Linked DNA regions of Homo sapiens. The protein of the gene in region 2 interacts with the protein of the main gene of each other region in a pairwise test. Each region holds a gene or a part of one and is shown on either strand. Other genes may lie near its edges.

Evidence for each region.
Region 1: the proteins of CD4 (region 2) and PTPRC come close enough for resonance energy transfer, tested with the Homo sapiens proteins (one study listed by BioGRID).

What each region holds. Positions count from the first base shown.
Region 1 is NC_000001.11:198,711,372-198,720,127, forward strand, and holds part of PTPRC (receptor-type tyrosine-protein phosphatase C isoform 1 precursor), read left to right. Parts: intron 1-1,581; coding exon 1,582-1,701; intron 1,702-5,310; coding exon 5,311-5,469; intron 5,470-6,722; coding exon 6,723-6,931; intron 6,932-8,756. UniProt on the Homo sapiens protein: Protein tyrosine-protein phosphatase required for T-cell activation through the antigen receptor. Acts as a positive regulator of T-cell coactivation upon binding to DPP4.
Region 2 is NC_000012.12:6,812,181-6,820,936, reverse strand, and holds the end of CD4 (T-cell surface glycoprotein CD4 isoform 1 precursor), read right to left. Parts: intron 6,796-8,756; coding exon 6,637-6,795; exon of another isoform or gene 6,474-6,636; intron 6,179-6,473; coding exon 5,945-6,178; intron 5,207-5,944; exon of another isoform or gene 4,952-5,206; coding exon of another isoform or gene 4,882-4,951; coding exon 4,534-4,881; intron 3,808-4,533; coding exon 3,607-3,807; intron 2,517-3,606; coding exon 2,395-2,516; intron 2,091-2,394; coding exon 2,023-2,090; intron 1,639-2,022; coding exon 1,608-1,638; 3' UTR 138-1,607; downstream 1-137. UniProt on the Homo sapiens protein: Integral membrane glycoprotein that plays an essential role in the immune response and serves multiple functions in responses against both external and internal offenses.

The DNA of each region.
Region 1 (8,756 bases), on a different chromosome or scaffold from region 2:
GCACAAAATGTTTTCAGTGGGGGAAAAATAGTCTTTTCAACTAATGATCCTGGTATCTCTGTAGAAAAAAAATGAACATCAGCTCTCACCTCTCAACAAACACAAAAATTAATTCAAAATGGATTCCAGACCTAAATACTAAAGCTATAATTTAAAAAATTCTAATCAAAGACATAGGAGAAAATGTGTAGCTTTAGCAAAGATTTCCTAGGGCACAAAAGCAAGAAACATAAAACTTTTTTGATGAATTGGAGTGCATAAAAATTGAATATTCCTGCTCTTTGGATGAGGCCACTAAGGAAATAAAAAAGCAATAAATAGTTTGTAAAAAATCAAAATTAATTTTTTCAACAACAGAAGTTTTTCCAGAATATACAGAGAGCTCTTTCAGCTGCAAAATAAGGACTAAAACAGCTCAATTGAAAATGGACAAACATTTTTAATATATACTTCACAAAAGAGGATACACAGGTGGTTAATAAGCACATTAAATGATGCTCAGCATCATTAGTTAACTGAGAAATACAAATTAAAACAACACTGAGATGATAATACTATACATCCATTAAAATGGCTAAACTTAAGAATACGGATACTACTAACTATTGGTCAGGATGTGCAGCCATGACCCAGGAATTTCACTCCAGGTATTTACCAAAGAGGAAACATGACAAAGCAGATGCATTCATAGTAGCCAAAACCTGGAAACAGCCCAAATGTGTATTCACTGTTGAATCCTAGGTAAAATGTGGTGTATCTTTACAATAACTACTGATAATTTTTTAAAATTCTAACTATGACACATGCAACTAAGTGAATGAATCTTCAGAACATTACATTGAGTGCAATATGTTAGGAGTGAAAAAGTACTTACTGTTTGTTTCATTTTATTTACATGCAATGGGTAAAAAGACAAACTTAATCTGTAGTTAACAGAAAGTTGATCAGAAGGTACGTGAGTCTGGTCAAAGGAGCTGAGTTGACTGGGAAGTACCACAGAAGGACATTTTGGGATCACAGAAATTTTCTTTATCTTGATTGTGGTGTTGGTTATGTGGATGTATACATTTGTTAAAAATGCATTAAACTGTATCTCAAATGGGTACATTTTAATGTAAATTTTACTTCAGACATTTTATTTAAACATTTATCAGTTTTTCTCAGTTTCAAATGACTAGTTACTGGAAGCAATGACAAGTGCTACTCAATGACTGCTAAATTTATTGGTGCTATGAATGCCAGATTTTTAGCACAGCAAAATCTACAAATTCCAGGATTTTTAGGTAGTATCTGGGCAAGAATATATATGAATAATGTATATGAAAGGAAGAGGGGGTTCTTAGATATCTTCAAGTCAGTGGAATGCTTAGGTTTCACAGTGCCAATCTGGTGTGACATTTACTTTGTTAAAGGAATTTACTCTAAAACAAATTAAATGAGCCCAGATGCATTTCTTTAAATTTTATTTTGAATTCATCATTTGTCAAAATATGGTTATCAATAATGCATGCTTATAATATGAAGAATGCTTTATCCATGTCTTATTTTTCATATTACATAACATTCTTATTCTTTTAACAGGTCCAGGAGAGCCTCAGATTATTTTTTGTAGAAGTGAAGCTGCACATCAAGGAGTAATTACCTGGAATCCCCCTCAAAGATCATTTCATAATTTTACCCTCTGTTATATAAAAGAGACAGGTAATTTGTGTAGAATTTAATTTCATCAGAAAAGAGAAATCAAGAATTTGAAAGTACTAGAAATTTTTATTGAGCCAGTGAGTCACAAAGCTCTCTGCTTAGAGACTGCATAGGCATAGTATACTCCCTGATCTTAGAATTGCTTCCACTCATTCAAAGCTTTCCAGCCCCAGAAATGACTAAAATCCAGAACATTCTAAATATTTGCTTGTCCTTCTTGGTCTTAGTTTAAATCTTTGTGCTCCAAAGCCTAGAGACAGAAAACCTCTGGATGACAACACTCATTTCTGTCTTGCAAGTATTATGTAAGTGATTTGACTCACTTTGAACTCATCATTCAGCCTCCTAAACAAACCAACAAACAAGCAAACCCCTTGTAAAACTTGTTTCAGCTAATAATACAGACAAAATGTTGGGTGAATAAAAATGAACATGGGCCCATGTAGCCGCTGGGGCCAGTTTGGTGTAATCTTGGGAGCATAGTTCTAAGTTTAGAATTAGACTTCTGCAGAAGTAATGCAATTAAAAAAAAAAAGAAGAAGAAAGAAATGTGCTATGACTAGTTCACTCATGAAATGTTCAAATGAGATGCTATTTAAGAGAACAAATATCTTCTGGACAATTTAAAGTATCTAAATTGTTTGTAGAAAGTAACATCAGTGGAGTATCTCAGAGCAGCCTCAATGCCTGGGATAGCCCTTTCTCTATTCTTTTATCCATAGGTTAAAATAGGAATGAAGTGAACCTCATAGAATTCTGTCACTCTGTGCTGTGGGGAAGGAACCAGACATACACTTCAAAACTTGAAAAGTGAAAGGCTATTTTTCTTCATTATGTTATTTTATATTTTAATGGCCTTTTCTTGCTAGTGTCTTTAGGTCTTAATAATCAGACTACTAAAGCAAAGTTAAATATGCATGTAGTTTTCAAATTAACATTCAAAGGCCAAGGAAAATAAATATATACTATATATTTGAGGTTATGATAAATTTAAAAGTTAAGTCTATGTGGAAGGAAAAATGGAAATTCCAGGAAGATAAAACAGCAGAGGTACTGTCTGCCTCATTGGACACCTCTTTTACAAACACTTTGTGTAGCTTCTATGGGAACACATTGTTCATTTTTTTTTTCTCTTCTCTGAATCTTCTATTCACTATCCCTTTCTGCATTCCTCAATGTCTACACTCTCTCTACTAGAGAGTATTGTCGATGTCAGAGTATATGGTAGACATTTTATGCATTTATGGCTCTTTTATATTTTTACAGTTTTTTTAAACTGTATTTCCACTGTATTTGCATAATTAGGGTAAAAAGGATGTAATGAGTTAGTAGCAACTCATTACAGCAACTAGCATGGGTCCTTCTTATTGGGCAACTAAATAGTGTTACCCAAATTTAACAGCTGTCCACATAGAACACTTAAACGGGATTGAATGGCTGAGAAGGGGAGGCTAGCTATCAGGCTGTGTGTTTTCTTTTCTCCAAAGCTGCCGATTGGTGACTGAATGCAGCTTTGGACCATGCCCTGACACTGCATAAAGGGCTCTTTGGAGCCAGCTCTACTCTAAACAGCGTGCTCCGCTTTTGTTTTCTCCTTCATCTCAAACATATACCTGTCTCCTCTCCCATGTTACCTAAGGCAAAGAGAGTTGATAGGATTATAGTATCGTTAAGGCAACTTAACTTTTCTCACCATTTTAAATAAAATTACTATTAAAAATCCACAGGAAGAAAGTCTATGAAATTTGCAGTTTACTTTTTAATCAGATATTAAATTTCACTTCATTACTTCACAATTTAATTTTTTCAGTGTCTCTAAAAGAGAGGGATTAAAAGAGGAGAAAAAATGCAATTGACATTAATTTAGTTTTATTGGTTTAGCAGGTTTTTTTAATTATGTATTATTTAAAGATTTTATCAACTATTTTAATAACTCAGTGGAGATGTGCATACATATCTTCATAGTTCATATGATGAAACTGAGGTTAACAGAAAATGTGATAGATGTTCAAGTTCAGTAGCTTGATCTGTTTCCTTTCTGCTCTTGGTTTTGTTTGTTTGTTTGTTTGAGAGGGAGTCTCCCTCTGTCGCCCAGGCTGGAGTGCAGTCATGCGATCTCGGCTCACTGCAAGCTCCGCCTCCCAGGTTCACGCCATTCTCCCGCCTCAGCCTCCCTAGTAGCTGGGACTACAGGCGCCCGCCACCACGCCCGGCTAATTTTTTTGTATTTTTAGTAGAGACGGGGTTTCACTGTGTTAGCCAGGATAGTCTGGATCTCCTGATCTCGTGTGATCCGATCCGCCCGCCTCGGCCTCCCAAAGTGTGTTTGTTTATTTTTCCTCACATTTTTAGCTTAAGATATTTTGGAGAACTGCAGTTTTATCTCGTTAACTTAATGATGGCAAGTGACAGTGAAGCTTCTTGGTAATTGGGGAATTGGGGAAGAGATCTTTTGTGCTTTATTGGATTTAAAGGATTATTTTTCAAAAGTTACTGAAAGCAATAGGCACCTTTCAAGACCACCATGATGTTGCTGGAAATTATTTTGTGTAATGCCTTTTATTTTTTTAAGAAAAAAAAAACAGAACAAATTGCTTAATCTCTCTGTGGCTCAGTTTTGTCATCTGTAAAATCAGATGATAGTGAGTACCAACTAATAGTTGCAGTGATGGTTAAATTAATTATTTCATGTATACCCCTTGAAACAGTGCTTGGCACATACAGTGAGTTATTATTTTTAAAAATCGTTATTGATATTATTATTACTGTTGCTGCTATCCAGAAACATGTTGCCACTCTAATCATCCTCTTTCCTGATGTCACTTGGCTACTCAAAAATAGCAGCAGCTGGTGATTTTTTTACTTAACAAGTGCTAAGTCTTCTGCCTGAGTGTGAAAACACACTTAGACACTGTCCTACCTCTCATATGCCTCCCCAGCCAGAGCTGTTGTCCTGATCAGGTTTGTCACTAAACTCAAAAACATTCCTTCTTCCGTTTGTAATATTTTCTTTTCTCCCTTACATGTATTCAGTTCCACTTACCTTTCAATGAACAGCTGAATTCCACTTCCGGCATGAAACTCCCTCATTCTCACAGCTCCCGTTAATTACTGTAGTGTCCAAATTACTATGATAGAATCAACCCAATGACTGATGATCAAATGGATTCTGCATCTAACATTCAAAACAGTAGCTAATACCGATGTTCAAAGTTTGGAGGTTACATATCAGAAAAGGTTTTCTAAAAAAGAATCATTCTGAAACATGCAACTCAAGACTTACAGTATACACTGGGGGCTGTGTTTTCTCAGAAACAAAAGAGATCGTCTTCACAAATGAATCTGAACTTATTAAATATTTTATGTACCAAATTAATGATATAAAACCATAATTTTTCAATATTTAATTTTACCAATGATAATTGAGTTTGTTCAATACACTGGCTGATAATTGTAGGTACTTTTGAGTATCAAGGATGTACTTATTTTTCAATCACTCAATAGTTTGGAGTTCACTTGGAACAATGTGATGTAGAGACCAAATTAATTAGGTACGTGGTAGTACTGACTTTTAACGACTTACTAATTTTTTTTCACATTTTTCCTCAGAAAAAGATTGCCTCAATCTGGATAAAAACCTGATCAAATATGATTTGCAAAATTTAAAACCTTATACGAAATATGTTTTATCATTACATGCCTACATCATTGCAAAAGTGCAACGTAATGGAAGTGCTGCAATGTGTCATTTCACAACTAAAAGTGCTCGTAAGTTATATGTTTTAATGCTTCTTTCCATAAATGGTAAAAAGCAAGGTATGAACTTTTTAGCCTACAATATTTCTATCTTTATTCTAGCAAGCACATTTACCTGGCACATTTGTTAACATCTAGGGCTTATAAACACGTAAAATCTAAAAGTTTAAAAACCGTTATCCTGGATTCTCTCTCTTCTTCAGATATAGTCATAGAATTTTAAGGACAAAGCATAAAAGCATCTTAATTGGCATCAGTTTGTGCAATTTCATGCAGTTAAGTACTTAACCAACTTAGATTAAAACATTCACTGTTTGCTGTTGTCTTTACTATCTGGAAATATTAATTGTAATCAGAAACCTAACAATGTCTCATAAAGCATTAGCCTACTAACCTCTGTTCATCTGATAAAACATTTCATAAAATGTAATATTTTATTAGCATTTTCTTCTCTTCGTTACCCTCAACTACTTACTATTCTATTTTATGTCACATTATCCATTTAAGGTTTCCTTTCAATGGCATTTGGCTCTTGCCACTAGTATAATCTCTCCATAGTTTCCAGGCCCAAAGTTAGATCTGCTTCTGGGGCACATGTTAACCTCCATCGAGGACAGGGAAGAAGAAATGCCGTGTTTTAAGGCAGCATCTATAGCTCCAGAGACCCTAACGGGCACTAGACTTGTGAAGAAATATTGTGCTATTTGGGGCTGAATATAAGACACTTTTAAGGTCATTTAGGTTTTGGTTTGAAAAGTTCTGGTCCTGGAGCTCTATGCTTTTGTTGTTTTCCTGAGTTTCTGTATCACAGAAAAAGAAGACAATTTGTTTCTGTTCCTGAAGAACCCATCTAGGTGTTTACCAGGATAACATTAGCACTCCGGGAAAGAAGGGTCTAGATTGTGTAATAGGACTTGGAGGTTTCCCAATCAACAACATTTTTCCTCTCCTCTCCCCAAACTTCCCCCTCTTCCCCACTCCCTTCCCTTTTTCTCTATTCTCTAATTCTACACAGTCTCCTTCAGGGATTGCAATAACTCTCATGGCTTCATGTACAACCTATATGCTAATACTTACTGAATAAATGAGTGATTTATTCTTCAGGGTTTTGATATTGTTTTTTAATTTATGTACTATCATAACTTCCTTATTTATAACCCCCAAGCTAACACTTAAAATACTTTATACTATATCCAAGTATTGTCAAGTAATTTACATATGCATCTATTAAATTATTAATAACAAATCTTTCTTCATTTTGATAGCTCCAAGCCAGGTCTGGAACATGACTGTCTCCATGACATCAGATAATAGTATGCATGTCAAGTGTAGGCCTCCCAGGGACCGTAATGGCCCCCATGAACGTTACCATTTGGAAGTTGAAGCTGGAAATACTCTGGTTAGAAATGAGTCGCATAAGAATTGCGATTTCCGTGTAAAAGATCTTCAATATTCAACAGACTACACTTTTAAGGTAAAAGTATGCTCTCTACATTACTATAGTACCAACTACATTATAATGATTGATTCATAGTACTTAAATAACTTTAAGACCACTGCTCACATGAGATTGAGAAGCTCTGATGTGTAATGGAATCACACTTAAAGAGTCTCAAATATTTGACTCTAAAATTTTTATTCCTATAGCTCAAGTCAGTGGTTTAAAGCAAATGTTTCATTGGAATATTTTAGAACTTCAATATGACTTAATTATAGCTAAATTATTGCTTCTGTGTTAAGAAGCACAACACTTTATGCACAACAGATTATTACTTTACCAAATCTACCTTTTCTTTACTTTGGCTTTTTATCTTTATTAATGTGGAATTTTTCAATTGCAAAATTTCACAGGTACCTTGAGGTTAGGAAATATTTGAAATAAACACTAGACAATACTAGTGAGCATACAGAATTTAAAACACTCATTATCTCACTGTCTACTGATCGTATTTTGTACATGTAACTTCATAATATACACATTTATATGCACTTAACACGTATTATCAACATTCTGAGTACACAGTTTTCAAAATACAGTTTTAAAACTGTATTTTTAATATATCACTATATCACACACACCTTTCTATGTTAAATATTTAACTACTATGTAGTTTTTAATGCCTGTATAATATTCTATGTATGGCTTTATCACATTCTATTAACTATAACTATGTTGGTCTCTAATATAAACAACATTCCGATAACACACTTATTGGTAAAGCAAAATTTTTGAATGTCTTTAATAATTTATGTTTCATAAATTCCTAAAAATGCATTTATTGGGTCAAAATGTATTTTGAGGCTTTTTGGATATGTAACTTTTTTTTTCTATAAAATTTACCAAATTGCCCTGGTGTATCAGTGTATGAAATGACTGCTTCTTGAGAGGCTCACCAACACTGAATACGCCTTTCTTTTTCTTTATTTGGTGGTTGAAATATGGTATTGATATCTTTCTTTTAATGAAGTTTCTTTACTTATTGTTCTTTGTGTTATTCTTTGCCTCTTTTATCCAGTTTTCTCCGGAGAAATGCCTTGAATATTAATGATATTAAACTCTTTGTCACATGCGTAAAAATGTTATCAGTTTATAATTTGCCTTTTAGTTTTCTTCACAGCACTTTGTCTTACATAATTCCCCTTTTTATTTTTAAACAAATGTATCTGTCACTTTTATTCCTGTTAAATAGAAATTTCCATAGTTAATTTTTTAATATGATGTTGACAAACGGCCTCATATTCTTTTTTTGTTTTGTTTTGTTTTGTTTTGTTTGTTTGTTTTGTTGTTGTTTTTTGTTTTGAGAGGGAGTCCTGCTCTGTCACCCAGGCTGGAGTGTGGTGGCGTGATCTCGGCTCACTGCAACCTCCGCCTCCCGGGTTCAAATGATTCTCCTGCCTCAGCCTCCTGAGTAGCTGGGATTACAGGCACCTGCCACCACACCTGGCAAATTTTTGTATTTTCAGTAGAGATAGGTTTTCACCATGTTGGCCAGGCTGGTCTGGAACTCCTGACCTCAAGTAATCCGCCTGCCTCAGCCTCCCAAATTGTTGGGATTACAGGTGTGAGCCACCGTGCCCGGCCCATATTCTTTATCACTTAAAGAAGTGTTTTCATATTTATAAACTTTTTGATTTTGTTTTTGAACTGGAAATGTCGGTTGGATTTTATCGATTTTTAGGGCATTATGATAGATGATGCCATAGTTGTGATGCCCTGGTGTGATTAGTTTAAATGATGCAAAACCATTGTCACATTCTAAGAGAAAAACCCCTGCTCTGTCATTGTGTGTTATTCTCTC
Region 2 (8,756 bases):
AACCTCTCCTCTGGGTCCGACCCCAAAGACCAGAAGATTCCTGGTCCCCAGAGAAGGGGTCTCTCTCTCTCTCTCTCTCTCACACACACACACACACACACACACACACACACACACACACGAAGAGCATCTTTATAGTAAGTTTATTGTATTTTTATTTCAGCTCAGGGGAGCAGGGGTGGAGAGTGGGCACAAATGCAAAGTAAGCAAATGGGGAGCCCCAGCAGCAATAGGGGGGTCTTCCTGGAAGAGGCAGGCTTTAAAGACAGGAGGAGAAGGAAATAGGGAAAAGGAGTTGGGACTGAGGGAAGTGGTGAGGAAGGGTAGGAAGAGAGGGGATCCTGAGAGAAGTGGATCAAGAAGATTTGTAACCCTGATTTCCCTGTGTCCTGAATGGTCTGGAGGAGGGTAAGGGAGGGTGTGGGGCAGGCGCAGAGCCTGGCACAATCACCTTTGAGGTCCCTTAGAGGGTTCCCTCTCAGGCTAGCTACCCCCTCTCCCAGCAAAGCTCGCTTCCAGGAGGTTCTGCACAGGGTCAGTGACTGGTCACTGGGCATTCTCTCCTGCAGTGCCTGTGCTCCCAGCTTGCGCTCTGATTAGAAGAGCCAAAGGCTTTGTCCTCTGGTAACAGATTCTGCCACCAGCGGGGGATGAAGGAGGGATTTTAGACAGGGAGGCCTTCATCCCTGCTCGTAAATTCTCTGAGATGGACCCTTCCCATGGGTGCTGTGCTTCTGTGAACCCAAAAGTACACATTGAGTACCCACCACTAGCCACTGGTGAGAGCCGTGTGGCATTTGTCCCTGCATTCAAGAGGCAGCAGTGGAACTTGGGACAAGGGACCTGGGTTAGTCCCGACTCCAGCACTTGCTAGTCCGGCACTTGGTAATCAATCATCTAGCCTCTCTGAGCTCTGGTTCTGGTCTATAAACTGGAGATGATCATCTTAGTTCTGTCACTGCCAGCCTTGTAGGATTTTTCTAAGTCTCAAATAGACAGAGGATGTGAGACATCCCTTGAGGCCGTGTACATGGGGCTGTGTCCAGAGGGGCTGTTTGTGCAAGGTCAGGATGTGAGTCTGTGGTCCCACCCACATAGGGTGAGAAGCGGGCAGCATGGGGCAGGAGGTACTGGCTGCCAGAAACCTCTGGATCTGCATCCATCCTTGACTGGCTTGGCTGTGTGATTTTGTGCAAGTTCCTGCCCTCTGTGGTCCCAGGGTCCTGTCTTGTAAAAGAACAGTCCCATGCTCCATGCTTCCAGACACCCAGCCTCACCCTCCATGCCAGCCAGGGCTGGCCCTGAACACTCCCCTGGGATCCAAATGAGCAGTGGGGAGAGGGTCAGAGAGAAATAATGAGAGAAGGGCTAGGCTTGAAGGAAAAGGAAATGGCGTGGAGGACGGTGTGATTAAGCCTCTGGAAACTAGAGAGCAACACTCAACCAGTGAAGCCGGGGCCTAACCCAGGAGAAACAATGGCAAATTGTAGAGGAGGCGAACAGGAGGCCAGAGGCTGGGGATCTGCTACATTCATCTGGTCCGCAGGCAGGAAACGCGGGGCAGACACCTGGGGAGGCTGCAAGTGGGATCTGCCTGGCCTCGTGCCTCAAATGGGGCTACATGTCTTCTGAAACCGGCTGCAGGAACAAAGAAGAAGGGGAGCAGGTCTGTCCCCACTGCAACCCCTTTGCGTTCTAGCACCTCCAATGGCCTTTCCAGCGCAGCACAGCTCCAGTGGCTTTCCAGCAGGGCCTTTCCTGGCCTGCTGCTCCTTCAGCTCCATCCTCCCACTTCTGCCTCCTTCTAGCTCCTGGCCATCTTTTCCCACCCCTCTATCCTCTCCACCACACCCCTTTAGCCCCCATCTCCTCACCTCCACCCCTCCCAGCTCTTCCTCCTCAACTCCTTCCTCCTCTCCATCCTCCCTTCCTGCCCCCCTTTGCTCCCCTTCCTCCCCCTCCTCTCTAACTCCCTCCCCCTCCCCCTTTCCCCTCTCTCAACCCCTCCTCCCAGATCCTTACTGAGGACACTGGCAGGTCTTCTTCTCACTGAGGAGTCTCTTGATCTGAGACATCCGCTCTGCTTGGCGCTGTCCAGGGACAAGAAAGGGAGTCACGAGGGTCCCAGGCCTCCAGAAGGGAGGTGCCCCTTGGTGGGGGGAGTGGGGGAAGCTGCGACAGGAGAAGCAGTTACATGGCCCAGGCCATCTATCCTGGAATTAACTCTCTGCTCCTTCCTGTCTCTCCCTTGAGTGGGATCTGGGACAGGGCAGCAAGGGAACTTACGAGTGGGCAGAGGGAGCTGGGCCAAAATCAGTTCCCATATACAGGATCTCCTGGTAGAGGACTCAGGGGTTTGAGGGCCTTGTGGGGACCAGGTGTGGGGTTACTCACCCTTCGGTGCCGGCACCTGACACAGAAGAAGATGCCTAGCCCAATGAAAAGCAGGAGGCCGGCGACGCCCCCCAGCACAATCAGGGCCATTGGCTGCACCGGGGTGGACCATGTGGGCAGAACTGCAAGGGAGAGAAATGTGCTCAATGCACCGCCCTCCTCCACGGGCCAGGGGACTGAGGACTGCCCTGCAATCCCTCCTGGCCAGTCTCTGGTTTGACCCTGGGGTTGGGGGAGAGGGGAGGGGTGCCTGGGGGCTCTCAAAGGCCGCCAGTGCTGGGGAATCGGTTTTATGTTTGGGCATATCCATATCCAGGGCACTCTGGAGAGAGAGAAGCTGTGGTCTGGCTCCTGGGCTGTGTGTGTGAGTGCATGTGTGTGTGCATGTGTGAGTGTGTGCATGTGTGTGCGTGTGTGAATGGTGTGAATGTGTGTGTGTGCGCGCGTGTGCGCGTGTGAGTCCATGTGTGAATGTGTGTGCGTGTGTGCATGTGTGTGAATGTGTGCCTGTGTGCGTGTATGAATGTGTGTGCGTGACTGCATGCATGTGCGCGCGCGTGTGTGCACATGTGTGAATAATGCGTGTGCGGATGTGAGTGTATAAGTGTGTGAGTGTACGTGTACGACAGTGTGTGGGTGAGAGTATGTGCGTGAATGTGTAAGTGTGTGTGTGCATGCATGTGTGAGTACATGTGTGTGTATGAGTGTGTGACAGTGTGTGAGTGCATGGGTGTGAGTACATGGGGTGAGAGTGTGGGTGTGAGTGTGGATGTGTGTGTAGTGTGTGTATGAGTGTGTGCGAGTGTGTGAGTGATGTGTGTGCGTGTGTGAGAGTGTATGGGAGTGTGTGCATGTGTGTGAGAGTGTATGTGTGTGAGTGTGTGTGTAAGTGCGTCTGGATTTGGAGAAAAGCCAGGAGCCAGGGAGGGGGGCTCTCGGTCAGGTGGACCCCATCCCTAGGCTGTAGACCTGAGGGAGTGGGAACTTGTAGAATTACAACTGGCAGCCTAGAGCCCAGGACCACAACCCACCTCACTTCATCACTTCTATGCCTCCTTTTGGGGCCTCCAAAGCACCCTGGGACCACAGAGGACACCATACCCATAACCCCCCAACTCAGGCATTGGGAGGCCGGGACTCTGGGTGGTCTCTGCCAACCACAGGAAGGTCCCGCAGCCCAGGAGGCAGAGGCCTTGGAACCTGGGTCCTTACCCTTGATGTTGGATTCCAGCAGGACCTGTCCCGAGTCACTCAGCAGACACTGCCACATCCCCGCCTCAGGGTTCAGCACCCACACCGCCTTCTCCCGCTTCGAGACCTTTGCCTCCTTGTTCTCCAGTTTCAAACTCAGCATCAGCTTAGGGGAGGTGGGTCCCCACACCTCACAGGTCAAATTTTTCTGGAGCTGAGTGGCTGCAGAGGAACGAGAGGCTGAGATCAAAGGCCTGAGATTCAGTAGAACAATTAAAATGATACTCTATATGGGTGACCTTCTTTTAGCCTTTTAGAGCAGGTTTTCATGCAGTCCTACGAGGAAAAACAGCGTTTGGGGTCCAGTGGTATTGGATTTGAATCCCAGCTCCACTGCTTAGCAGCTGTGTGTCTCTGGGCAAGTGACTTAACAACCTGCACCCAGATAGTACTAAAGGCAGGCATACATGTAAAGTGTTTGGATGGGGCCCGACACGTGCTGAGCATCAAGTGTTAGCCATTACTATTTGCAGAGTCGTTATGATGATAAGGAGATAAGGAAGCCAGAAACTCAATTTGGAGCTTGACATTATCATCATTACTATCACACAGAGAGCAGATTTCATTATCCTTATTAGACAGGTCAGGAAGCAGGCCTGCAGTGGGAGGGGGCTTAGCCAGGGTCACAGAGGGTTGGTTATAGGAAGAACTGGAACCCTGGTTCTTAGCCCAAGTGCTTTGGGGATCTTCAGTGAAGCCAGCCCCAGGCTGGCTCATGGATGTCTCAGTTCAAAACCAGCCCCAAACCCAGAGGGCCCTCCCTCACTTCATCCAGGTGACCAGGGCCTAGGCATCCCCTCTTGGGGCCTGGCTTGCCTCAGAGGGAGCCCTGGGCCAGGCCCCTCCAACTCCTTCCCCTGCCCACCCCTCCCTGGCCTGGCCCCTCACCTCTCATCACCACCAGGTTCACTTCCTGATGCAACTTTCCTGTTTTCGCTTCAAGGGCCAGGGTGAGGTTTCCAGAGCCAGCATACTGAGGCAAGGCCTGGGGCAGGGTGAGGTGGAGCGGGAGCTTCTTGCCCATCTGGAGCTTAGGGTCCTGGGTAACCCGTTTTACAGACACTTCCTTGTTCTTCAGGTCAAAGGTGATCCAAGACTTGGAGGAGGAAGCCCTCTCCGCCTGCCACCACAGCTCGCCACTGCCCGTCAGCTTTTCAACTGTAAAGGCGAGTGGGAAGGAGAACTCCACCTGTTCCCCCTCTTTCTTATAGACTATGCTGGAGGCCTTCTGGAAAGCTGGAGGTGGGAAGGGAGAGACCCTGGGTGAGGAGATAGGAAGATGAGGGTGCACGAGTGGGGTTGGCATGTGGAGGCAGCAGGGAGATGGAAGGGGACCCGACGAGTCCAGACACCCACCTTGTCACTTCAGATACTTCAGTTCCTTCCTACCTCTCCAGCCTTCTCTCCCTTCTTCCACCCAGCATTTTCCTACAGCAGGCCACCTCCCTCCTCCCGGAAGCCATCACAGAGCAGCCCAGCCACAGGGGATCCTTGCTGTCCTTAGGATTCCTGGACCACAGAAGCCATTTGGCCTCCACTCCTTAGAGGCGTATTCATCACCCTTCACAAAATAACAGCGAACACTTAACTAGGGCTTACTCTGTGCCAGGCACCATTTTCAGTGCCTTACGTATATCAGTCCTCAACTTAATACGAGGTAGTCACTATGGCAGTTAACATCATCCCCATTTCACAGAGGCTGAAACCAAGGTGCAGAGAGGTTTAGTAACTCACCCAAGGTCACATGGTTGTGGCAGAACCAGGATTTCAATCAGCGTACATGCACTAAACTGGCACACTACCTTATGTCTACCTTAAGTCACATAAGCACCCAGGGGACAGGATCTGGGGTAGGACCTTGGTCTCCCCACAGTGGCCTGGCTTAGAGGTCCAGAGGTACAACATAGAACATCATCAGGGTTGGCTTACTGGTGTTAGTGTCCCTGAGTAAGTGGATTTGCCAACTTGGTAGGGGTGTGGAGCTGAGGCAACAAAGAAAGTAAGCTCCCTGACATTCCTCCTTTGGGGCCTCCAAAGGAGACTCGGGCCTCTAGCATCCTTACCTTCCCCAGCCTTTCCTTTCTCCATGTCCACCACACTGAGGGGTGGCTGCCAATCAGCCCCCTGAGGATGAGGGCCCCAGTGAGTCCTTCAAGACAGGCCTCAGCTCTAGGGGACCTAGTCTTCTCCACTCCTGACCTCCCAGCACCAGAACCAGAAACAGGGCAGTCAGAGCAGAGGGAGGGGCTGTCAGCCCCTGGGGCAGGGAGGAGACTGCGCGAAGAGGGGCTTCCCTTACCTAGCACCACGATGTCTATTTTGAACTCCACCTTCTTCTGGTTCTGCAAGACAGTGCATGTCCAGGTGCCACTATCCTGGAGCTCCAGCTGAGACACGGAGAGGGTCTTCCCCCCCTGTATGTTTTTACCCCTTGGACTCCTACATTGCACTGAGGGGCTACTACCAGGGGGGCTCTCCAAGGTCAGGGTCAGGCTCTGCCCCTGAAGCAGGTGGGTGTCAGAGTTGGCAGTCACTGTGGAGGGAAAGGCCAGCTGTGTCACACACATACCATCCCCAAGGAGAAGGGCAGACAACAGGAAACCAACAACATCTCTCCATTATCGCCGTCCCAACATCTCCTTCCTCCCAGCACCCAGCTGCGCACCCCCAGCCAAGATAGGGTTTCCCTCTCCCCTCCTCTCTCTCTTCTTTCCTCCTCTCCCCTCATCCTCTCTTCCCCAGTCTCTCTCCCTCCTTCCCTTGCCTCCTTCCCTTTTCTTTCCTTTTCCCAAGGCCTCTTCCCTCCTCCGCCCACCAGCATCCCTCACCTGATCAAGAAGGGTTTTAAGACATTTGGAGGCCAGTTTGACAGCCTGGTCCTCTTGGGGCTGCTGCGGTATCACCAGCTCAGGCTGGATTTGGTGCAGGGGTGGGAGTAGTGGGGAAGGGAACCAGGCAGGAGGTATCCTCATCCCCACCTGCCCCACTCACATCCGAACACTAGCAATTGCACCTCCTCCTTCTGGTCCTCCACTTCACAGATGTAAGTATCTGAGTCTTCTATCTTAAGATTCTTGATGATCAGGGGAAAGTTTCCTTGGTCCCAAAGGCTTCTTCTTGAGTCAGCGCGATCATTCAGCTTGGATGGACCTGGGAGCAGAAGACATATGGGGGGGGACTGAGGCGCCCTGGAGACAGGGCACCTCTGGCAAGAGAATGCCCACGGCTCTTCTGATATCAGTTGCTAATTTCCTGCAACATCTGCTCCTCGTTCTAATCAGAGAAACCCGGTCTGGCAAGGAGGTCTCATCATATCCATTTACCTGGCTGGGACAGTAGCTCACAAATACAAATAAAATCATATCCTTATTTGGAGAGCACCAACTCCTACATGCCAAATACTTTACAGGCATCATCTCAGTAATCTCCACAATAATTCCGAGAAATAGATACTGTCAACACTGTTTTGTTTATTTTGCAGATAGAGAAACTGAGACTCAGAGAGATTAGGTAACTGCCTAAACTCTCACATATTGAGATTAAGTAATTACCCAACTCTCACACATTGTAGGAGAATAAACCAGTACAATTTCTTTGGATGGTGATTTGTAATCTATACAGAATTACAAATGTATATACAAAACCAAATGTCCATCAATAAAGAATAGGTTAAATAGATCATAGCTCACCCATTCAGTGGACTGCTATGCAGCCGTAAGAGAGGAATGAGGAAGTGCTTTGTGTACTAATTTGGACCCGTATCTAAGAAACATCACTAACTGAATAAAGCGAGATGTTAAACAGTCTACTATTTGTTTTTAAAGGTGGAGAAAATATATTCTTTGTATATGAAAAGAATAATTCTCGAATTAAACATAAGAAAATGAGGCCATTAAAAAGAGCTATAATGTCTAAAAAAAAATTAAAAAAGAAAATGAGGCCAGGCATGGTGGAAATCTCTCATCCCAGCTCTTTGAAAGATCGAGGTGGAAAGATTGTTTGTGCCCAGGAGTTCGAGATCAGCCTGGGCAACATGGCGAAACCCCATCTCTAAAAAAAAAAAAAAAAAAATTTTTTTTAATTAGCCGCCTTGGGAGGCTGAGGTGGGAGAATCACTTGAGCCCAGAAGTCAAAGGTTGCAGTGAAACAAATGAGATGGCACCACTGCACTCCAGTCTAGGTGACAGAGTGAGACTCTGTCTCAAAAAAGAAAAAAAATTAACTGAGTGTGGTGGTGCATGCCAGTAGCCCCAGCTATGCCGGAGGCTGAGGTGGGAGGATAACCTGACCCAGGAGGTCGAGGCTGCAGTGAGCTATGATCATGCCACTGCACTCCACCCTGGGCGACAGAATGAGACCCCATTTAAAAGAAAAAAAAACTGGGAGGCTGAGGCACAAGATCGCTTGAGACTGGGAGGCAGAGTTTGCAGTGAGATCGCACCACTGCATTCCAGCCTTGGTGAGAGAGTGAGACTGTCCCAAAACACACACACACACACACACACACACACACACACACAAAAATAACCTTGGTTGCCTCTAGGAAGAGGAAGTGAATACTCATGTGTAGGAAGAAAGCTTTTCACTATATGCCCTTTGCTTTTTTTTTTTTGAGATGGAGTTTCGCTATTGTTGCCCAGGTTGGAGTGCAATGGCATGATCTTGGCTCACCGCAACCTCCGCCTCCCGGGTTCAAGCAATTATCTTGCCTCTGCCTCCCGAGTAGCTGAGATTACAGGCATGCGCAACCAAGCCCGGCTAATTTTGTATTTTCAGTAGAGACAGGGTTTCTCCTTGTTGGTCAGGCTGGTCTCGAATGCCCAACCTCAGGTGATCCGCTCGCCTTGGCCTCCCGAAGTGCTGGGGTTACAGGCGTGAGCCACCACACCCAGCCTGCTTTCTTTTTTTGTTTGTTTGTTTTTATGGAGTCGAGTGTTCGATCTCTGCTCATTGTAACCTCTGCCTCCTGAGTTCAAGGGATTCTCTTGCCTCAGCCTTCGGAGTAGCTGGGATTACAGGTGTACACCACCACATCTGGCTAATTTTTGTATTTTTAGTAGATACAAGTTTTGCCATGTTGCCCAGGCTGATCTCGAACTCCTGACCTCAAG